Homo sapiens: one gene and its partners. The protein of the gene in region 1 purifies or fractionates together with the protein of each later gene. This does not show direct contact. Each region holds a gene or a part of one and is shown in the gene's direction. Other genes may lie near its edges. The genes, in order: MYBPHL, DPCD, GFPT2 and PLEKHA6.

The links.
Region 2: the proteins of MYBPHL (region 1) and DPCD purify together in Homo sapiens (affinity purification with mass spectrometry; one large-scale study listed by BioGRID and IntAct). This does not show direct contact.
Region 3: the proteins of MYBPHL (region 1) and GFPT2 purify together in Homo sapiens (affinity purification with mass spectrometry, with the first as the bait; one large-scale study listed by BioGRID). This does not show direct contact.
Region 4: the proteins of MYBPHL (region 1) and PLEKHA6 purify together in Homo sapiens (affinity purification with mass spectrometry; 2 studies listed by BioGRID and IntAct, with this or other methods). This does not show direct contact.

The regions. Positions count from the first base shown.
Region 1 is NC_000001.11:109,303,061-109,309,719, reverse strand, and holds the start of MYBPHL (myosin-binding protein H-like), read left to right. Parts: upstream 1-2,708; 5' UTR 2,709-2,728; coding exon 2,729-2,873; intron 2,874-6,659. UniProt on the Homo sapiens protein: Myosin-binding protein which plays a role in cardiac function. Seems to regulate conduction in the atria and ventricular conduction systems.
Region 2 is NC_000010.11:101,605,737-101,610,621, forward strand, and holds the end of DPCD (protein DPCD), read left to right. Parts: intron 1-3,098; coding exon 3,099-3,201; intron 3,202-3,630; coding exon 3,631-3,735; 3' UTR 3,736-3,926; downstream 3,927-4,885. UniProt on the Homo sapiens protein: May play a role in the formation or function of ciliated cells.
Region 3 is NC_000005.10:180,328,530-180,334,493, reverse strand, and holds part of GFPT2 (glutamine--fructose-6-phosphate aminotransferase [isomerizing] 2), read left to right. Parts: intron 1-2,940; coding exon 2,941-2,999; intron 3,000-3,659; coding exon 3,660-3,794; intron 3,795-5,964. UniProt on the Homo sapiens protein: Controls the flux of glucose into the hexosamine pathway. Most likely involved in regulating the availability of precursors for N- and O-linked glycosylation of proteins.
Region 4 is NC_000001.11:204,216,937-204,222,189, reverse strand, and holds the end of PLEKHA6 (pleckstrin homology domain-containing family A member 6), read left to right. Parts: 3' UTR 1-3,337; downstream 3,338-5,253.

The DNA.
Region 1 (6,659 bases):
TAAAATTCCACAAAATGGAAATAAAACTCAAATTTCTTTAGCATTGTGTAAATAAATCTGAATGTGTTTAACTTTGTACTGGTAATTTTCTGTATATTTGGAATATTTGGGTTAAAAATAAAACAGACTGGACTTTGTTACCTGACCTACTGAAATGACTAAGCTACAGTTTGTTGATATACTTTTTCCAGTTTTCTTGCTTCAGAATCAGACTCCAGCAACCAGAGAACAAGCCATTTAAAGAGCCAGGACTGTACATTTATAGCATGAAATGTATTCGGTCATCTATGAGGAAAACGTCTCACAAAAATGTGAGCCATAAATTACCTAATTTTCTTGTTCTTCATTTTCTTGCTCTTAGTGCTCATACAGATCTTCCTCCCGTGGGTGTGTATACGACCAGCTTTCTTGTTCTTCCTCCTAGAAAGTCTAGGCACCCACCCCACATACCTTCACAGGTTTCAGTTGCTACACTCTTCCTTCTGGACACAGCAACAGATAATTACTCCTTGAATTCTGTGTTCTTTTGAGCAGGTTTGACCCCTGGCGGCACTGAGAAGTTCAGCTTTGTAACTTCCCATCTGCTCCTCTTACATTTCTCTTGCTGTTCTTACGGGCCCTTTCTTGTCCCTTTCATTTAAGGACCTTTGGAGAGTTGCAGCCTTCCTCTCTTGCAAAGCATTTAAGAGAGGTTCCTGCCCACCCGTCTGGAACCGTTAGCCATCCTACCCTGCTAGCCTGGGGCAATATTCCATGTAATACTCCAGCACCTTGGTCTGAAGATGACAGGGCAAAGCCCTTGTTCCTGAGGCCCATCTGATGGGCGAGTTCCTACCCCAGGACATTATCTAAGATCGTTGTTTTATTTGAAGGAATTCTATCTAACATGGTATTCCAAGATTTCCTGCGCCAGAGTCACTAGGTTGGTTTTTTTAGGTGCAGATTTCTGGATAGCACCCCAGACCTATTGAATTAGACTTTCTGATGGGCAAACCTTAGGAACCTGCATCTTAAAGTTGATTCTTTACACCTTCGCTCCAACAAAGGGCTAAGACTCAGCCTGGGCCAATTTCCTCACCAAAAGATGGGTTACGTGTTGTGTAAAAGGGGGTGTATTTGGGGTCTCCTGGCTAGGAGACTGTCCACACTTACGGGGCCTTGGCTGGGTCAAGCAGGAAAAATAGTTCAGAAAGACCTTCAAGCTAGTTCTGATATGGCAAAAACCCAGTCTTCTGCCAACCAAATCAACCCCATAGGCCATCCAAGGCCCCAATAAACAGATTGTCCTGGGCCTTAGCTCCTATACCAGTTACAAAGAGGCTGAGCTTCTGTCACCCCAAGATAACACAGGCTCCTGGGATCTTACCAATTACCCCAAAATTGAAGGCAAAAATGAGTAAGAAGTCAGTCCATTTGTTCAACTGCACCCATTTTTTTTCCATGAAAAAAATACAGGGGTGAGTAGGGGGCTGTGGGAACCCTATACTTTCCACTCAGCTTTGCCGTGACTCTCAAACTGCTCTAAAATTAAAGCATTTTAAAATGCAGAGGGATGCTGGCTTCTGGAGATAAGAAGGTAGGAGTATGATAGGTGGCAGTGTCCATGGCATGTACAACACGTATAGAAAGATGGTTTGCTAAGTCTGGAAATCATGTAGGACCTGTAGTATGTGACTAGCACCTGCTGTGAGCTGGCCACTTTCCTATAGATTGTATCATTTTATCCTCAACACAATCATGGCATCATCCCTTGTTTCATAGACTGGGACTTGAGACTCCGAGTCGGCCATTTGCCCAGAGTCCCAGCTGGTGAGTGAGTGGTACAGCCAGAAGTCACACGCAGGTCTCTGAGCTCGCCTCCCTCCACCACTGCTGCCTCTCCCTTTATTTGTACTTCATCTAATAGGCAAGGCAGCCATTGACAGCTCTCAAAGGGGGAAGTGCTGGCCTGACCTAAAAATAGCTTACATTTATCAAGCACTTAGTCGGCTACACTCTGCTAAGCACTTTACAGAGATTACCTCTTTAATCCTCACAACGACCCTATGGTTATAATTATCTCCATTTTACAGATGAGGAAACAGACTGAAGAGAGACTGTGAGGTGTTGTGAGTCACACAGCTAGTTGGTGACAGAGCCCCAAGTGGCACCTGGGCAGCCAGTGCGAGTGCAGTCTCCACCTACCACTGCGCTGTGCCCGCTGCCCCCGGGGAGCGGGGGAGGATGGGACAGGCCCTGTAAAGGTCGAGTTGATAAGACTTTACAATTCATTGAATGTGGGAGCAGAGGGAGAAAGAGCAGTTCAGGCGTTGCTGTGAGTCAGCTAATCCTGGGCCCCTTCTTTGGGACCTGAATGCCCCACGGGATGAACTGGAGGTCAGGAGCAGAGATGTCACTCAACCCTCCCTACAGAAATTAGAGGTCCCTTTTGGATGGTGTGTTCAAGCTCTCCCTCCCTGGTGCTGTGGGGGGTGTCATCTCTCTCCCGAGATAACAGGGACACCTCAGTCCTCCTGGGGCTATTCTGGGCTGCTGTCTGATCCTCCTCTCTCCCCCAACCCCTACTTCAGCCTTTCTGCTGGGCGTAGCTGAGTGGGGAGGGCCAGCCCAGTTACGTAACCCTGTGGCTGGGACCCGGGAGGCCAGCCTGGGAGCAGGTGCTCAGCCCCTCCCTCATCACCAGCAGTGAAAATCTAGAGCTGGAGCTCAGCCTCTGGGAAGGCCCAGCATGGAGGCAGCCACAGCTCCGGAGGTGGCCGCAGGATCCAAGCTGAAGGTGAAAGAAGCCAGCCCAGCGGATGCTGAACCACCCCAGGCTTCACCTGGACAGGGGGCTGGCAGCCCCACTCCCCAGCTCCTGCCCCCTATAGAAGGTGACCCATGGCAGGTGGGGAGGGTGGGGAGGCCGGGTGGTGGGAGTTGGGGAAGACATCGCCACCTTCCTGAACGGCGCCTCAGGTTTTCTGCAGAGCTAAAGACTCTATAGGATTGGTGATTAGGCTGGAGATCATTCGTGAGAGCCCCCATCCCCTGTCCTTGATGGAGTCTAACTTGCTGCTCAAATGTCCCTGCTAAGTTTTTGTGTTTTAGCTGAGAAGTCAGTGATGGTGTTGGTGGCACTTTACAGTGACTAAAAATGATCTGTTTATATTTTTACCTTTTAAAAAATTGTCATAGGGACTGGGAAGACCTGATATACTAATGGCCAGTCAGGAAGGGACTGAGGGGTAAGAGATAGTGACTGTCTGCTGAAGGAACAGGGAAATAAAATGCTATGGCAATGGGGAGGCTAAGAGTGGGGCAGCACAGTGACACTCGGCCTCCTGCTGGGCAGTACCACGGGGTCAGGACCTCCTCCAATCCCCCACTGCTCCCATAGGAGATCCTGACCCCTCAGAGTCTGAGCTCCACGGAAGTGGAGCTCTCCTGGGAGAAGCATTCAATTTCCCCTTCACGATGGTCTCTGTGTGCCTCTCAGCAAAGAGGCGTTCCCAAGTGAGGAATTCCAACCCCGAGCTTCCTGCCGCCCATCCCTGAATGCCCTGGCTGAGGCCTCTGTAGCTAACCACTTCGTGGCGCTCACCTGAAAGTCTTAAGAGGATGAAAAGACCACAATCAAGAAACACGTGGACTCCTAGGGCAGGAAGAGGCAGGGGAAAAGATATACTAGACTTGGAGGCAAAGCTCTAGGCTCAATTCCTAGTGCCGCCTCTAACAGCCCTGTGACCTTGGACAAGTCACTGGACTGCTCAGTTTCCATTTTCACTCTGTAAAATGGTGATTAATAACATCTACCTATCAGGGTAGTTGAAAGGATTGCTGAGATGATCCAGGGTGCCTTGGAAGAGGCCAAACTAAGATGTAAATAAATGATCAAATATTTCCAAGTGAGAGGTGAAGGCTGCGTTCTACCTCCATAGGGTTGTGCAGCAGACTCTGTCTGCCTCTTATCCTCATGGGAGAGGCCAGGTTTCCAGAAACTATTTGAATGTCAAGGGCAGAGAGCTGGCCAAGTTTGTCCCGTTGAAGATGAAGGGAGCAAAAGTTAGTGTAAATATATTAAGCTGGGGTGATGGAGGCAGAAAACCAGTTTCTTCCCTTAAAAGGCCCAGAGAATAAGTGACAGGCAGCAGGAGAATGAGAGCCAGGACTGCTGACGCCTCAGCTCTCTCTACTGGTCTTCCCAAAAGCACAAGGGAGAGTGCTCATCTCCCCCATGCTTCTCCCCTCTGGCTGCAGCCAGCTCCTGACAGCCCCCAGTCACGGGCCCGCAAATGCAGCCCAAAGCCTCTCGTGTGCAGCAGCTCTGTACACTGCAGGCCTCAGGGCCACTAGCACCCAGTGGCTCAACCCAGTGGTATCCCAGAAGTCACTGGCAATAAGAACACCTTTGAATACTTTGCAAAATATATGTGCATCTGTTAACTACTTGGAACAAAGAAGTCATGAGTTCAAATCTTAGCTCTGTTCTGTGGCCCTAGGCAAGTCAATCCACTCCCATTTTCTCATCTGTAAATTGAGGAGTTGAACCAAATCAGGGTCTTAACCTTTTGGTGGATATGGACCCCTAGGAAAATCTAATGCCAGCTGTGGACTCTTGCCCCTGGAAAAATACACAAAAAAGTTCAGAGAGCCAACAGAGCCCCAAACCCCCACCAAAGATCCTTCAGGGTGCAATGCATGGGCCTGGACTAGATGACCCCTAAGCCCCCTGAGAGCTCCAAAGCCTTTCTTCCTCCTAACTCCTCTTCCTTACAGAGAGCTCTGGGACTGAGTATCACAGGAAGCATGTGAAAACATGGGAACTAGAGCAGGCATCAGAAATAGAAATTAATTTGCAAGATCAAAACCAACTGCAAATGGCCAACAATGAGCTTTTAGTTTGGCAAGCCTGCTACATGGCTAAATAAGCAGGAGTAGGTGGCCAGCATTGGTAAACAGTTCTATGTCTGTCCTCAGCACTACACTGAGTACTGTGTCCTGGAGACAAAGCTTGGCAGGGGCCAGAGAAGAGCTTCCAAAACAGGGAGAGGCTGGGGAACAAGCTGCATCCCTCCCATGGACAATGTGACACTCGGCCTCCTGCTGGGCAGTACCACGGGGTCAGGACCTCCTCCAATCCCCCACTGCTCCCATAGGAGATCCTGACCCCTCAGAGTCTGAGCTCCACGGAAGTGGAGCTCTCCTGGAAGAAGCATTCAATTTCCCCTTCACGATGGTCTCTGTGTGCCTCTCAGCAAAGAGGCGTTCCCTGGGACCCTGAGGTGGAGGAGAAAGAGCCCATCTGCTGACTTCAGCATCATCGCTCCAACTGACTCTGTGTTCTCTTTCAATCTGAACTGTTCTGTGTCTTCCAGGCATGGGAAACTGAATCTCATGCCTAGGAGTGACCTTTCTTCCCTCCTTCCTTCCGTCCTTCCTTTCCTCCTCCTTCCTTCCACAAATATTTAGGTTGTGCCTATGATGTGCCAGGCGCTCTTCTAGGTGCCAGAATTACAGAAATGAACAAAATAGGTAAAAATAACTGCCCTCATGGAAGTTAGATTCTAGTGGAGGGAGCTAGACAATAAATAAACAAGTAAAGTATCTAATATGTCAGATGGTGAGAAATGCTGTGCCAAAACTAATGCAGGGACGGGGATAGAACGTGCTTCGGGTAGGAAGCATGCAGGCTTCCTGCTTCAAATGGAATATTCAGTGAGGGTCTCACTAATAAGGTGACATTTGAGCAGCAACTTAAAGGATGTGAGAAAGCAATGCATGCAGATATTTGGGGGAATATTTTCCACACAGAGAGAACAACTGCAAGGACCCTGAGGCAGGAGTGTGCTTTATGGGTTGGGGCCATTGTGGCTGTAGCACAGGGAGGGAGACAGTGGCAGTATTTCAGTCTGAGAGGTAGCACGGCCGCTGTGAAGACTTTGGTTTGTCTACGAGACAGCCAGCCAGCCAGTGCAGGGACTGGGAGTAAGGACTGACAGGACCAAGTGTAGATTTTAAGGATTTTTCCAGCTGGCCATGTTAAGAATAGACTGTAGGTGGGCCTTAGACACTAGCAAGATCGACAACTGGGAATGAGAATGAGGGAGAAGGTAGGGAGGTTTTAGAAGAGAAAGGTGTGCGATAGTCACCCAGGACAATGGGAGACCGAGTGAACTTGGGAAGTCTAGTAGAATTGCCAGAGTTCACTTGGAGGTGGTGGTCACTATTAATGGCCCTCAAGTTAAACTCCATATAATTTTGTATTTTCCCCCAGTCCTGTTACTCTGTGCAGATACAGCCACTGAGTGGGTGGGAAGTTTATTTAACAAGGGTTAGGTATTGCCAAGAGAGTGCAATGAAGTCAAAGAGGACTCAGGGATTTGAGTGAGTGCAAGAGAGAGAGTATAATAATGACCGTGCAATCTAAGTTGGGTGGTGAAGAAAGTGCTAACATGAAAGGGGTGCTAGGTAGTGAGAGGGTGGTAGGACAATGGATCACAGATCTCAGTGGTGCCAAAGAATTGCTGGTGTTGGAGCACTGGAGGAAGTGAGCTAAAGGGATAAAGATTATATTAGTTAGGTATACTAGTGAATGAAACAGGTCTCAGGAATGACATACATCTATTTCTCACTAGCGTAAGAACTAAAAACTATTCTGCAGATAGTTCTCCTCCATG
Region 2 (4,885 bases), on another chromosome or scaffold:
TGCCCCATCATTGGACAAATGCAAATAATCTAGACTATGGCGGGCTATTACTTTGTGGTGAGAATGTGGAGACATGGAGGTGTCAGGAGATTTGGGGAATTCTCACTTTAATACGGGCTTCTCTGTTTACCAGCTTTGTGAGTTGGGCAAGATATCTAACTTTTCTGGGCCTCAGTTTCCTTTTGTTTAAAAGTGGATAATAGAAGTAACCAACCTGAGAGAGTTGTTTTGACAATTAAATGTGTTTAGAACCTGGCACAGAATAAGCTCTTAAAATGTCATCTTTCATTGTATGGCTGAAATAGAACATTGAAGGGAGGTGGGAATGGGGGAGAGCGGGGCATCTGCAGGAAGCCAGGGAACTATCCTGCTGTAAGGGTTCATCTTTTAGCAGAAACAAAACAAGGTCTGATCAGCAGGGATATGGCCTTGTTCCTTTTTTTGAGATTGAGTCTGGCTCTGTTGCCCAGGCTGGAGTGCAGTGGCACGATCTTGGCTCACTGCAACCTCCGCCCCCTGGGTTCAAGTGACTCTCCTGCCTCAGCCTCCCAAGTAGCTAGGACTACAGGTGCTGCTACCACGCCTGGCTAAGTTTTGTGCTTTTAGTAGAGACAGGGTTTCACCATGTTGGCCAGGCTGGTCTTGAACTCCTGGCCTCAAGTGATCTGCCTACCTCGGCCTCCCAAAATGCTGGGATTACAGAAGTGAGCCACTGCATCTGGAGGCCTTGTTTCTTCTTCATCCTTTTCTTTTAATTTTTTGTAGAGACAGGGTCTCGCTATGTTGCCCAGGCTGGTCTTGAACTCCTGGCCTCAAGTGATCCTCCCACCTCAGCCTCCCAAAGTGCTGGGATTACAGGCATGAGTCACCAGGCCCGCCCTCTTCTTCATCCTTAAATCCCCAGCTCACAGCTCAAGGTCTGGGACACAGTTGATGCCCAATAAATGTTTGCTGCCTACCTACAGCTGCCTGAGGCTGAACGTTATGACCCTTCCAGAAGCACAGTGGGTCTCTCTCTTGTCCAGGTGCTGGTGAGAAAGTCAAGTACAGTACCTATCATGGAAAAACCCTATGTCTGGGGGAATGGGTGTGAGAAGGGGGTGGGCTTCCCCAGGAGGAGAAAAGGCAGATGCTCCCTACTCCCTTGAGCCTATCGGGAGCTTCTAAGAAGTTGGTTAACCTCGACCAATAAACTAAATCTATTACAAGAGACTCAAAACCAAGCTGAGCCTCCACCTGCTCTGCCTCCATTCCTCTTGCCTGGTGGTAGGAGTAGTTCAAGGAAAGCAGGTGCAAGCTATGCACCTAAAGTTCCCTCTGATCCTGTCCTTGCTGTTGTGGCCAAGCCCTGGGATTCATTTTCCGGTCCCACTGCCCCAGCCTGGGGGAATGGTTCTGCTGGGCTGCTTCCCTCCTGGTTCTGCTTTTTGTGTATATTTGCAGGGAAGATGTTAACACTTCCTAACAAGTCTTTGTGTTCATCTAATCTCTGCTGTTTAACCTTTGACTCTCCCCTATTATCAGTGTCTGCCACCTTTGCTGGCCAGACCAAAGGCCCCAGGAAGAGCCCTCAGCCTGAGCTGGCTAGGAAGAGGATGAGGCAGGCATTCCATCCCCGGTTTGCAGGCAGATGGATCGCCTTTCCCTGGGGCAGAGCTTTGGAAAATAAAGCAACTTGCAATGCCATTAGGATCCCCCAGCCCCCACTCCTTTTGAACTGTCAGCCTTTAAGTAAACATTCTTTTCCTGCCATGGGTCCCAGTACCTTGGTGGGGAGTGGGGAACCTGGGAGGAGAGGGGCCCCGAGAGCCTCTGTTGAACGGAGGGATTTGGGCAGGGAGGACGGGGGCAGAAGTGCTGCATTGATGTCAACTCTCTGAGTCCCCAGGGCATAGGGGCTTTTGAAGTGGACTCAGGGTAGCTGTCACCACAAGGACCAGGCCCCTCTGAAGTACTAAAAGCCCCATCCTCCCCAGGCCTCTCACTTGAGTTTGTTTGTACCTGCCTGAGGTGTTTCCCTTCACAGCCCATACAACCTCTGCAGCAGAAAGTGATGCCTTGCCCAAGTGACAGGTCTAGCAGCCCCTGGCCAGAGCCTAAGCCACATTTCCACCAAGGAAAATGCCAAATTGGTGTACTGTTAGAGATGAGGAGGCCATTCATTGTGCTTTGGTGTAGTAAGGATCAGACCAAGGACAAGGAATCTTACTCTAATCTTGACTCCCATCCCTACCGACAACTGGCCGTGAAACAAGGCAAGATATTTCATCTCTCTGAGCCCGAGTTCCCTTTTAGGTAAGGGGGGTCAAATTTCCTGCAAAGTCTAGTTATACACATTACAGACTGGGTGTTGCCATCTGTTCTATTTTTTTTTTTAATTAAAAGGCATCATTAATCGCTGAACCGGCACCTGCAGATGATAAGGACCATGTGTGATATGTAAAAATGGAGGAGTAGGGACTTGGGGCCAGCCAAGTAGTCCAGAGGTCCAGCTTCCGTGATGAGTAACATGGTTCGTCCTCTCAAAGAGATTTCTCCTAGTAGATATACTTTTCCCTCTGGCCTACAAGGCCAGGCTAACAAGGCCTTGAAAGGCCCCAAAAGAGGAAGAGGTAGTTGAGGCCTTCAGTGGACCTCCCATGTAAATGGTAACAGTAGGGCCCCAGCTTTGGGAGACAGATCTGAATGTCCTTACTCTGTCCTTTGTTAGAACACGTCCCATTTTTCTGGTGTCTCCATGAGGCTTTGGGGGTAGAGGAGTCCCAAGCTGCTTGAGCTATTTGTGTGTTCCAGGCTTCTTCTGCCTGTCTTTGGGAGACCCAGCTCTGAGATGTGAGTCACTACAACCCCTGGTCTAATCACAGAATTATAACTAGGTTCTGCTCTTCTGCCACTGGACTGGACATAAGGCTTGCATTCTATGCTTTCCAGGGCCACTGAGCTCTGAAATACTGGTGTTCTAACTGGTTTCCCTTCTCCCTCTCTGCGTGTGTGGAAGGTGTGGAAGAACTAGGTAGAAGCTAGGCAGCAGAGGGCCTGACGCCTGGCTGTTGGGTCACCTTGCCGAGTGCCCCAATGGCCTCTCGGTGTCCCCACAGGTACTACAAGAAGTTCTCCATTCCTGATCTAGATAGACACCAGCTACCTCTGGATGACGCCTTGCTGAGCTTTGCCCACGCCAACTGCACCCTGATCATCTCTGTAAGATTCACCCAGACTTCTTGGACACTGCATCAGGGAGAGTCTTCCTCTTTCCCTGCCCACTTCCCATCCCATAAGAGTCCTCAGTTCTAGCCCCAAGCCCTAGGGTATGCTTGTGGGAGAATAGGCATCTCTAATTCAGCATGGGGGAGAGCAGGGAGGGGGCTCAGGAAGGAGCCTGACCATATAATTCACAGCTAGAAGAGGGTAGAGGGTGAAAGGGAAGCGGTGGAAATTGCTGAACTTGGGTTCTTCTGGTCCAAGGTCTGCTCCTACTCAGGCACATGACCTTGAGCAAATCATTCAATCCTACAGGCCTCAATTTTCTCGTGCAAATAAGGGGATCAGAAGGAGAAGGGGCCCCAAGTGTGTGTGGAAGGAGATGGGACAGTGACTGAATTATTTTCTTATTCCTGGCTGCATCCACAGTACCAGAAGCCAAAGGAGGTTGTGGTGGCCGAGTCTGAGCTACAGAAGGAACTAAAGAAGGTGAAGACAGCCCACAGCAACGATGGGGACTGCAAGACCCAGTAGTTGGCCCCTGAGCCTTATACCTCCACCACAGGGGGTGCCGTGAGACTTCAAGGCTTGGCCCTTCTTGACCACGGCAGCCTCCTGTCTTCTAGGAGCTATCAAGGGTCTCTAAGAACTGGGCATGGGGCACTCCTAGCCAGTGAGTCATGGTCATATTTCCTGAGTAAAGTCATTCTGAGTTACTTACTGCACAGGGACTGCCCTCTTGTTCCCCTCTGTATGCTGCCTGGCCCCAGACCCCACTGGCCTCCCTCGGGAGGGTGTGATGACATTCCTTTCTCTATCCCGGAGACCTACAACATAAAGCTTTCCACAAAAAGGGAGAATAGGGTGGGAGCACATGGCCCTAGCAGGGCAGGGCTGGCCTTTCCCTGCAACCTGTTTACACAAACTCAGAGGAAGACCAGGCTGGAGGGACCCTGTGCTACCGTAGCTTGCAGAAGTGGCTCAGAGGAAACTCCTGAAGATGTGTGGGCAAGGGAAAAGTTTTAAAAATGCAGAAACCGGCCAGGCGCAGTGGCTCACGTCTTAATCCCAGCACTTTGGGAGGACGAGACGGGCGGCTCACCTGAGGTCAATAGTTCAAGACCAGCCTGGCCAACATGGTGAAACCCTGTCTCTACTAAAAACACAAAAATTAGCCGGCCATGGTGGCGCATGCCTGTAATTCCAGCTACTCGGGAGGCTGAGGCAGGAGAATCGCTTCAACCTGGGAGGCGGAGGTTGCAGTGAGCCAAGATCATGCCACTGCACTCTAGCTTGGGCAACAGAGCAAGACTCCGTCTCAAAACAAAACAAAACAAAAAAACAAAAACAAAAAACAAAACAGAAACCTTGGAAGTAGAACACAGGATGTTAAGGCATTGTGGGTAAAAAGCCAGAATCAGGGTCATAATTTTGCCAAGGGTGTGTGTTGGGGTAGGGGTCACCACAGGCAACAACTGAGCTTCCAGCAGCCTGTACCCTTTCCACAGTCCCCTCTCCAAACCCACAGGTGACCCTCCATACCCCAAAGGGTAAGGGATAGGTCATCAATGGGAACTCTTCCTGAAAAAAAGAAACCTTTGTTCTTTGGGACACAGAGCCATGAGGCTGGTCTTGTCGTTTCAGCAGCACATACAACCCTGAGCTTGGGTCTGCTGTTCCCTTC
Region 3 (5,964 bases), on another chromosome or scaffold:
AGTCAGGCCACAGGAGAGCAGCACCAGCCTGCTTGGTGTCCCCCACCCACTGCTGATCAGTGGTTCTCCGAGGCAGTGTAACTGGGCGGGATGGGCAGGCACCCCCACCACCCACAGAAAGTGCAGTGGTGCTGCTTCTCCCCAGAGCACTCTGCAGGGCCTCACCAGCTCACCCCGCCCAATTTGGAAGGGAAGGCGTCCCCCAGAAAACGGAAGGAGAGCCCCATCCACCCTGCTCAGCAGAGCAGCTTGGTGGTAGCACAGGAGCCAGGGCTACTCATGCATCCTAGTGATCAGGGTCTTGAGGGAGTGAGGTTTTTGCGAGGGCCTCTTCCTTGGGTCTGGCTCATGCCCTGAACCATAGGGCATTTCGTGACTGAGGCACACACCCTATGTCCAGGAGGAGGACAGCAGACCCCATGGTGCTGAGGACCTAGAATGTACATCTGGCCAGAGCCCAGGTCAAGTGCAGAAGCTGGTCCCTGGGGCAGTCGTGCTGGCCGAGAAAACACTGCGCCCAGACCATGTGCCCTGAGATGTTGCCACTTTAGCCACAGCCTCCTGCCCTTCCCAGTGATAAAATGAACCTCATTGGAAAATCCCCCACTTCAGTGTAGATGATGATTCTCATTGTGTCCCCAAAGCAGGGAGGCTCCCAGGAGGCCCACCCACACCCAAACTTGGACACTCCAGCCCTGACTCAGGATGAGTAATTGAAAAGAAAACAACAGGACAATAAGCAAAGATTTATAAAATTTCTTTGACACTCAGCAGTGATAGCTGAAGAGCATGCTTTTAAGGAAGTCTGAACGCCCAGCAACTATACCACACAAGGAAATTACACAAAGATTCTGCAGAGACAACATGGATTCCAGAAAACAAATTAATGATAGGATCATAGACTGAGATGAAAGAAAGTGTAGCAGAATTAAGAGAATAATGTAAAGAAACAATATCACCGGCCAGGCATGGTGGCTCACGCCTGTAATCCCAGCACTTTGGGAGGCCGAGGCGGGCGGACCATGAGGTCGGGAGATCGAGACCATCCTGGCTAACACGGTGAAACCCCATCTCTACTAAAAATACAAAAAATTAGCCAGGCATGGTGGCGGGTGCCTGTGGTCCCAGCTACTCGGGAGGCGGAGGCAGGAGAATGGCGTGAACCTGGGAGGCGGAGCTTGCAGTGAGCCGAGCTCGCGCCACTGCACTCCAGCCTGGGCGACAGAGTGAGACTCCATCTCAGAAAAAAAAAAAGAAAGAAAAAGAAACAATATCACCATAGATATAAAAAAATGGAGAAGGGGATGGACGTGGAGCCAGTTAATATGGATCCAACATATGGGTAACTGGTGTGCACAAGAAGCGATCAGAGCACAGAGCAGTAAAAAATAAATAAATAAATACATAAAAAATAAAGCTGAGCTGTGGTCAGCACATCTGTTGAAACTGGGCTTTTCTTATTTAAGCCCTCCCATTTTTGGGTGTGACCTCACAAAAACAAACACTACAATTTTTTTAAATAGAGGAAATCATGGTGAGAATAAAGAAAAAGAATAATGGAAAAGATTTCAAAAGATGCTGTGGGAGAAATCTTTCCCGAACTGAAGGAAAACTTGAGTTGGATATCCAAAGAAGGGATCAAAAATAGTCAATAGACCAGGCACAGTGGCTCAAGCCTATAATCCCAGCACTTTGGGAGGCCAAGGTGGGTGGATCGCCTGAGGTCAGGAGTTCGAGACCAGCCTGGCTAACATGGTGAAACCCTGTCTCTACTAAAAAAATACAAAAATTAGCCGGGTGTGGTGGCGAGCACCTGCAATTCCAGCTACTTGGGAGGCTGAGGCAGGAGAATCGCTTGAACCCGGGAGGCAGCAGTCGTGGTGAGCCAAGGTCACGCCACTGCACTCCAGCCTGGGCAACAGAGTGAGATTCTGTCTCAAAATAATAATGGTAATAATAAAAACAAATAAGACTTCACAGTGATGCTTTGAAAAAAATAGTCAATATTTATGAAGCGTATCCCACATCTAGACACCTCCTGGTGGAATTATTGAACCTCAAGGGTAATAGGGAATCTTTCTGTCCTCTAGGGGGAGAGGGAAACGGAGCTACTTGCCCAGAAAAATTCTCAGGCTGGCCTTGGATCTTTCCCTCAAGGCACTCATATGCGGGCTATTCATTGAGAAAATGCAGTGGGGTGGAGGCAGACATCCCTCACCGCATCCCCCGCATCCCCCTGCTCCCCCCGCCCCCCCGCCACCTCCCCGCCAGGATCAGCGGGGTGCTACCTGTGCAGGAAGCCGCCCGCGTGAGCTGGGTTGTGCGGCAGGAACTGGGGAGGTGGGAAAAGCTGCAGCTGGCAGATCCTGCTGTGCAGGAATGTGGCTGAGCCTGGGGATGCCAGAACTTCTGGGATTTTTCCCCCAAGGAAACCAGGATTTTAAAGTGAACACTCAGAATTTTAAAAACTCAAATATTTTTACAACACAGTGTGGGTCAAACACAGCACGGTGCTGGACTGTTCTTTGCGACCTCTTTGTGCCTAAAGCCAGTTGAGAGTGCCTGGAATCACTTCTGGAACGAAGGGCTCATCATCCCCGTGGGACATGAACCCCAAAGCCTGTTTGATACTATAATAGCGCACAGGGGAGAGCTCTCTGCACGGTCAGGCTGGTGGCTGCTGGTCACTGAAAGAGGGATGTGTATTTCCTCCGGATCCCATTGTAGTAGCCGCTGCCCTAGACATCCCTGGTGCTAATCCCTGGTTCCACTGTAGTTGCTGCCGTAAACATCTGTGCTAATCACTGTAAACAAAGTGTGCTTAACAGAAGTCTTGAGGCCTGGAGTTTGCAGAGAGTTCTCAAGCCTTGAAATCATCTCTCTTCACATCTGACATGAACCTCCTTCTCAATAGCATTTCTCTCTTAACTTTTCTTTCAGAATTTGTTGTCATCCACAATGGGATCATCACAAATTACAAAGATCTGAGGAAATTTCTGGTAAGATGCTTCCCCTAGGTGATGTCTCAGTCCGGTGGGATTGGTCTCCCCAGAAACTTTCCAGCCAGCTCATTTCCTTGCGGAAACCAGTGTGGGAACTGAGTGAGACCCACACTCAGCCACGTCACCGTGTTGAGAAGAAACCTCTGCCTTGGCTGAGCCAGGCCCTGCAGATCTCGTTTGAGGAGATAACAGGGCATTAGTGTTTATCTCAAGGGCCACTGCAGATTCCCAGAATCAAAATAACAGGAGCTTCGTTTTATTAAACTGTCTGCATTATATAACACAGCGACTCGTATACCGGCGGAGTTGGGACGGAAAGTCAGACAGTGACTGTCTGAAGTTTGAAAGGCTCTGTGGTGTTAGTTGGGATGTGGGTGGGTTTGACTCAACGTATTTTATCATTTTGACTGCTGTTATTTTGCAATGTCCAGATTAGTGGCAAGGGTGAGCTTCTGAGGTGGGATGATCTCAGGGCCTCCGGGAGTGACTCAGAGGTATTTGGCTGTGATGCTGGCAAACATTTTTCCCCCCTTCCCGGTTTTCCCTGTTCTTGACTTAAGTCACTCCAAGGGCAGATCACCAGGGAGGAGAGGGAGTTGGCCAGGCAGGCATTGTGCAATGACCAATCTCTCACACTGTGCCGACTGCATATTCCAGGAAAGCAAAGGCTACGAGTTTGAGTCAGAAACAGATACAGAGACCATCGCCAAGCTGATTAAATATGTGTTCGACAACAGAGAAACTGAGGACATTACGTTTTCAACGTTGGTCGAGAGAGTCATTCAGCAGTTGGTGAGTTACAAATCCCATCTGTCTAACTCATTCCTTCATTCTTTCATTAAAAACATTTTTTTCAAGCAGCAAGTGCCAAGGAATCCTTCATTTTTTATAAGCCCTTGTTAGACAAACTTGCACAGAGTCCTGGGGATAAAAGACAGCCCATCTGCAGAGCCTGGCCTTAAGATGTTACACTCTTGTAGAACTGGAAGACGTTCTGTGGTTTGGGTAGTCAACATCAAATAGAAAGTGCCCTGCTTCATCGTGACACTTCTGAAATTGTGACTGGCATTAGAGTCCGTGGCTTTTTATGATGCACACGTGAGCTTGGTGGTGGTGTGCAGAGAGAGTTGTGGTACCAAGCGAGGATGTGTTTCTAGGTTTTTCTTTTTTGAGACAGAGTCTCACTCTGTTGCACAGGCTGGAGTGCAGTGGTGTGATCTTGGCTCACTGCAACCTCCACCTCCCAGGTTCAGGCAGTCCTCCTGCCTCAGCCTCCTGAGTTAGCTGAGACTACAGGCACGCACCACCACACCTGGCTAATTTTTGTACTTTTAGTAGAGACAGGGTTTCACTATGTTGACCAGGCTGGTCTCGAACTCCTGACTTTAAGTGATCCACCTGCCTTGGCCTCCCAAAATGCTGGGATTTACAGGCGTGAGCCACTGTGCCTGGCCTGTTTTTGTGATAGGTGATATCACAGCATGTCTGTATGTGGAACGGAATGGCCCAAAAGAGGGAGAGAGGGAGAGAGATTGGGGACATCCCAGAGGACAGGGCCCAGGGAGAAGAAGTCCCTGAGAAGGGAGCACACACTGGGCGTATTGTCCAAGGGGAGGCCCCTACACTGAGGAGGAGGTGGAGCAGACACAGGCCCATGCAGGGTGCGGGAGGACGAGAGGGGTCCGGGCCTCTCAGAGCCCATCCTGTCAGACAGCAGTGCCACCCAGTAGCTCCCCCAGGGCTGTGGCAGCCTGGACACTGGCCCAGAGTCCAGAACATCTGGCAGGCACCATCCTGTAGTGTAAAATACATCATTCTTGAGCAGGTGTTTTCAGAGTCTGATTTAAAAAGTAAGTCTACTGTTGAAGCCTTTTTGTCCTCTAACTCCCGTTTTTGGAGGTCCATCATTTAGAGGACGTGTTTATAAAAAACAGCCTATCCCACATTTAATGTGCTGGATAAGGTACAGTGAGCCAATTAGGTATTACAGCATGCTGTTTCTTCTTTTCCATTTTTATTTTGAAATTTCAGAAATACCTCTCTCATAATGACACTTTTAAACTTAAGACTTTTCCTACCTGGGACAGTACCGGGCTCTTTTTGGCAGAGAACGTGCAGTGTTTTTCCATTCAGTCCTATTTTATTGTTGACAAAAGCACCAGGGTCTGCCTGAAGCCCCCTGGTTTGGGGCAGTTTGAAAGCCCCAATGAGGCCTGGGGACGGTGACTCAGGTTCCTGGCCCTGTAGCTGAGTTGGCAACCTGGACCCGACACGCTGACCACCCGGGGCCTGGGGCTGCCCGTGGCTTCCACACTTGGAGGATTTCTTGTGGAAATTCAGATTTGCAGCTGGTTATATATAACTGAGCTCTGCTAGGGTTGCGGTAAGTTAGTACAGGATGGTCAGGACGTGGGGGAAGAATTTACACCAAGAATTTAAGTCAAAAAACCATCTGGCCTCTTGTGTTAGGAGAGCTGGATTCTAGTTCTGGCTTTGCACAAACCAACCAGCTGAGGCCCAGAGGGCAGGTGGCAGTCGTATCCATGGAAAGGATAATAGCAGTAACGGTCATGACAACCTGTGCTTCTCTTGGGTCTCCGGATGCCAGGCTCAGTGCATTAGCTTATCATCGTCACGGAAGCCCCGCCAGGTGGCGCTGTTCTCACTTCCTTCACCGATGAGGAGAACGAGGCGCCAAGAAGGCTAAAGGGAGAGCCCAGTGCAGGGGTGGAGCCAGGATTTGAACCCAGGCCCTACCGTGTGTTGAGCTAAAGTGCACTTCACAGGGGCTTGCTGAGTAGGTGCTGTCCCTGAGCAGGGCAGGGAAGCCTGGTCCCAGCTATCATTTCCTGTGACTCTCACTGCCCCGTCTACCCAGCTGGCACCCCTGCCGGGCTCCCTGTGGGCCTGGGCAAGCCGCACATCGCTCACCGTGGAATTCACATGTTCTGGTTTGTGGTAC
Region 4 (5,253 bases), about 95 Mb from region 1:
GAGCCAAAGACAAGGTGATGAGAGATGGGGAGAGGCCATTGGCTCCCAGAGGGAACAGTGCTGGCTGTGGCTAGAGAACAGCAGGTCTGTGCAGTGTCTGAGGGCAGGTTGGGAAGGGTAGCAGAGAGAGAGAGACAGAAAGAGAGAGAGAGAGAGAGAGAGAGAGAGATCCTCAGAGTGGAAGGAGGGGGAAGCAGCAGGACACATTGGCAAGTCAAGCAGGAAGGAGGGAGATGGAAAGGGGATATCAGATTGGTTTCCCCCGGTGGAGCCTTAGGTTAGTGCCCAGTGCAGTGCCAGACTGTCTCCTCTGCTCCTCCCACCTCATCCCTAGGAGGACCCACCAGTGGAGCACATGCAGCCTCAGTGGAGATGCTTGGTGTGGGGATCTGGGTGAAGGGGGTTGAGTAGCGACTGCCTGGGAGATGGCTGTTAGTAGGTCTGTGCCTGGTGTCTGCCTCGCCATCCTGGGGTAAGGGGCAGAGAGAAGGACTTGTCTTATGTAGGGTGTGGTCAGCCTTGGGGCCTTACCTACCCAGTTCCATGATATTTCTTGCCCTGTTCCCCCTGGAATGTGCAGTGGGCCAGCTGAGAGTACGCCTTGAGGAGGGGGGATGAGGCCTTAATCTGGGAGGCCTATCCCCCTATCCCAGGCATCCCAGACGAGGACTGGCTGAGGCTAGGCGCTCTCATGATCCACCTGCCCCGGGAGGGCAGCGGGGAAGACAGAGAAAAGCAAACGCATTCCTCCTCAGCTCCACCCACCTGGAGACGAATGTAGCCAGAGAGGAGGAAGGAGGGAAACTGAAGACACCGTGGCCCCTCGGCCTTCTCTCTGCTAGAGTTGCCGCTCAGAGGCTTCAGCCTGACTTCCAGCGGTCCCAAGAACACCTACTAATTCCTCTGCACTCCTTCATGGCTGGGACAGTTACTGGTTCATATGCAAGTAAAGATGACAATTTACTCAACAAATATTTATCGAGCACCTTTTATGTACCAGGCACTGTTGTAGGTGCTTAGGATATTCTCATGTTTCTGAGGGATTACAGCCTGGGAGGATTCCACCGATCTTCACTTCTAGCAGGTTTTTTAAACGTGACCCTTGGCTGTATTTCCCATCTTCACAGTTCAAGCACCCCAAACCTGCCCTTTCTCCCCTGCAGACTGGCAGGTGGGATTGGCTCCCAGGTCATTTCCTCTCTCTCTCTTTCTCCCAAGCCTTTCTCCCTCCACAGGAAACAGATTTTTCAGGGCCTTCCATGCCTGCCACTTTGTCCGTCTCTTTTTTTTTTTTTAAAGTAATATTTTTTAGAAATACATGTAAAATACCAAGAAATAATGTCTGCGCCTCTGCCACCTCTCTCTCATCTCTTATTTCATAAAGCTGGCTCTTTATGTTGCTTTACATGCCTTAATATATGTTTTATGGAGATTATACATATTATAGATCTATATATGTAATATATTTGTTTGGATGTCTGATCTTTTCCTACAGTTCCTGCCCAGGCCTGTTTTTCTCTCCCTTATTTTCCACATCATTCCTAGCATATCAAGACCATACCCCTTGCCTTTTTGATCCAAAGAAGGGGAGAGGAAAGACTTATTTTAAGACATCTATTTTATGCTTTTGTTTAAAAAAAGCAAATCTATTTTCAAATTGTGCAATGTCTGAATGGAATTGGCAAATGAGGTGAGGAGATGGGGTAACTGCCTTTAGGTCCCAACCCTGTGCCTGTCCCTCTGCCACAGTGGCTTCCTTCCATCCTATTCCCCAGTCACGAAAGGGCTGGTCCCCAGAGCTCACCCAGAAAGCATCTTGCCGGGGGCAGGGCATTCCCTCGGAAGTCCTGGCCTAAGGATTTTATTACACTGTCTGCTCCTGATGACCCTCTGCGGTTGTCAGGCGTGAATCCTCTGGAAGGAACTGTTTGCAGTTGTATGCACAAAGGAGACCCATGCAGGCATGCACCCCAGATGGGCTGCTAGACTACCCCTCTTCATCAGCCTGCTGGAAAGAGCAGACAGCGTAACAGCAGCCTATGCCAAACAGCACTAAGGATGTCAGTGTACGAGACGGTGCGAAGCCCAGAGGAGGCGGCTTGGGATCCTCTGGGCCATCCCTGGCCCTGTAGCACAGACACATACAAGTTCCTTGGACTTGTCACACTCCTTTTCACTTGATCCCTCTCTGGCCTGGGTCACATTTATGACATCCCCCCTCTGCAACCTTTCTCTCTGGGGGCTGTACCAAAGGCATGGTACCTCAGTCTGGTATCCAGACTGTGAAATCAGCCTCTGGGCCAAGGAGGGTCCTACAGACAAGGTGGCATCTCAACCTCACCCAAGAAACCCCCGGGACTTTACCCCAGCAGGCTGCCACTGGGGCACCGAACTAAGCCAGCTCAGCCTTCCAAGCTGCTTAGCCTTTGTCAACCATCAAAGTGGGGAAAGGGTCTCTGGCCTTGCAAGGATTTGGGCAGGATGGAAGTCTTTGTCTAGGTCTGAAATCAAGGGCTTGGGAATCTAGAGCAGAGCTCCTGGCCAGCGTTTGAAGCCTGGCCTCCCACCTGGGGCATTTACTGACACCCTGTCGCCAGCCTAGAACATCCTGCTCTGAATGAACAGAGCCCAGATGGGGGTCCAGAGCTAAGTGACCCACCTGGGGAAGCTCTGATTATTCATCCAGGGCCTTCTCAATGAGCACATTACCTCCATGATCAATAACCAAGAGGCTGCAGTCAAATACTGCTACTGTCACTTTGAAGATTTTCTAAGGGCACAAGTGGCACACTTGCTCTCCGGCCTTTGGGAGAGGCATGTTCTTGGGCAGGGCTGGCTACGGCAAGAGGGAACCAATTCCTTTCCCCTTTAGGCACCCTCTACCTGGCAGCTCTTAAAACTAAGAAAAAATATGATATACACACACATTATATATATATATATATATACACACACACACACACACACACGTATATCTATTTATGCACATATTGGGGCCAATTTGATTTGCTAGTATTAGACAATAAACTGTACAAGGAAATTTATTATCTCAGTGTCTTTATTTAGCATAAAAGTGGCCTTAGAAGAAGGGTGAAGGTTAGATAGATGGAATCTCTGTCAGGGGACAAACAGCTGTAGCATCCCCTTAGCATCTTTCTAGCCAATGAGCCCCCTCCCCAGGAGGAGGGATGGCCTGACTGAAACAGGTGAGAGTTTGCTTCCCCCTTTCAGCAGCATTCTTTTTAGATTTAGGTACTGAAGAATCCCAGTGAGTTCTGCATTTGTATCTTGCAAGTTTGTATAAACCCAATACAGGAAATAAAATGAATGGTTTGTATATGTGGTGTGTGTCTCCTACTCGGTGTCTGCCCTTGTGGTGCTTGTGGGGTTGTGGGGTTGGCAGCTTGTGGGGTTGGCAGGAAAGGGGAATGGGGGCTGGGAGGTAGGCTGGGTGTAAAACATGTGCTCCTTCCTCCCCTGTGCCTCAGCCTGCACTTTTTGGCCTCCATCCCCAGGAGCTGGGGAAGCGAGGGTATGCTACCAACACCAGCATCATCATTTCAGTTCAGGTGACCCCAGATCAGGGTTTGCCCCAAGGTTCTGTATAATGGCAGTATCAGATGCTTCAGGCCCTGGCACCTTCCCTTGGTTTGACTCATACAAAGGACAGGACAGCAGGAGAAGAGAATGAATTCCCAGCCTTTCTTGATTACTACACAATGCGCTATATTGCTGCTTTACAAGAAGTTGTATAATTTGGTGGGAGGTATGAGACCACCCCAGTTCTCATTCTGCCTCCATCCCTTTGGTTTATTTCTCTTGGCAGGTGTTTTGTGGTTATCAGGTATTGACACTCTGTGTGAAGGGCTTTACCAGTGCTTCTCAATTTGGAATCTTACTGTGGGGACCAAGAGTCAAGAAGCCTGGTAAATTTTGTGGGGTGGGTAGTGGAAGAGAAGAGGTGCGCCCGGGAGACTGGCAGGCTCAGCGGGGCTTCTGCATGTTGTCCGAGGGAGGGATGGCTCAAGAAAAAGCGAGAAGGAGAGATGAGAAAGCAAGCTTCCTCTAATTCCTGATCTTGCATCGGCTTGGCTTTCATGGCTGAAGCTGAATTCTGGACACCTGTTCCCATTTCTAAGGGCTAGTACGGGGGAGGTCATTTTTAAGATTCGACTCTATTTTGGATTTTGTCACATCCCCAGGATGATGTCCTTTGTGAACCCGGGAGAGTTGTGACCAGATGTAGGCTCTGGGGGAGGGCCTGCATCAGAGGCTGGGGTAGGGGGATGCATATTGGAGAACTCGTCACTTTCTGGGGGGCTGAGCCTTTATCTTCAGGCTCCATCTGAGCCAGAGCCAGTGGCAAGGGCTTGGGGAGGAGGTGGAATGTGAGACCACAGAGTACCACCGGGCATCACTGCATCCACCGACAAGGGCTGCCTCCTCCTCTCAAGAGATGATGCCAGCTGGTGCCTGCTCCATCCCCTACCAGATCAAGCCAGGTTGGGATTTGTAAAAAGGGGGTAGTAGCTGAGAAATGTAAATGAAAATGCAATAGCAGAATGTCCTTTAAGGAGCAGAGCTGTGTAACTGCATGATCACTTATTTATTCTTGAAGACAGGCACGACAGGGTCAGGCAGGCAGCCAAGCCTCAGACCCTGCTGCTGCCAGGGAACTGGGGCCACGCCACGTCCCCCTCCTCATCCCGAGCCTCACCTCGTTACTGAGACCAATGAGAGAAGGTGGCATGTCATCCTCAACTCCTGCCCCTAGCAACATGCTCCTTGCTAGCTGCATGAAGATTTGGACAAGTCATTAAATTCTTGAGTCTCAGTTCCCTCATCTGGAAAATGGGTATATTAACCACCATCTTATGGAACTTTCAAGAAAGACAAATGAGAAAATGGATGAAAATCACTTTGAAAACTCAAATTCACTTCCAAATGTGAGGAAGTGGAAGTGGTGATGTTGCAAAGGCTCCCTGGCCACCTGCAGGGGCCTGATGTGGGAAGAGGGAGAAGGTTTTCCAGGACCCCTCCTTTACTAGCTCTACAGCCTTTGCTGGAAGACATCACCAGGGCCCGTGCCATCCCTGAGGTGTCCCTCCCCTGCCACTTCTATGCCTCCAGCCCAGGGAGTAACTGCACTACCCCACACTTTTCTCATCATGGCAGGGTCATGAGACTGCCATGGGTCGAGGACTAGCACCAGCCTTCCCGGCGTTGTCCCTATGAAGGTCCCTCTCCAGAAGG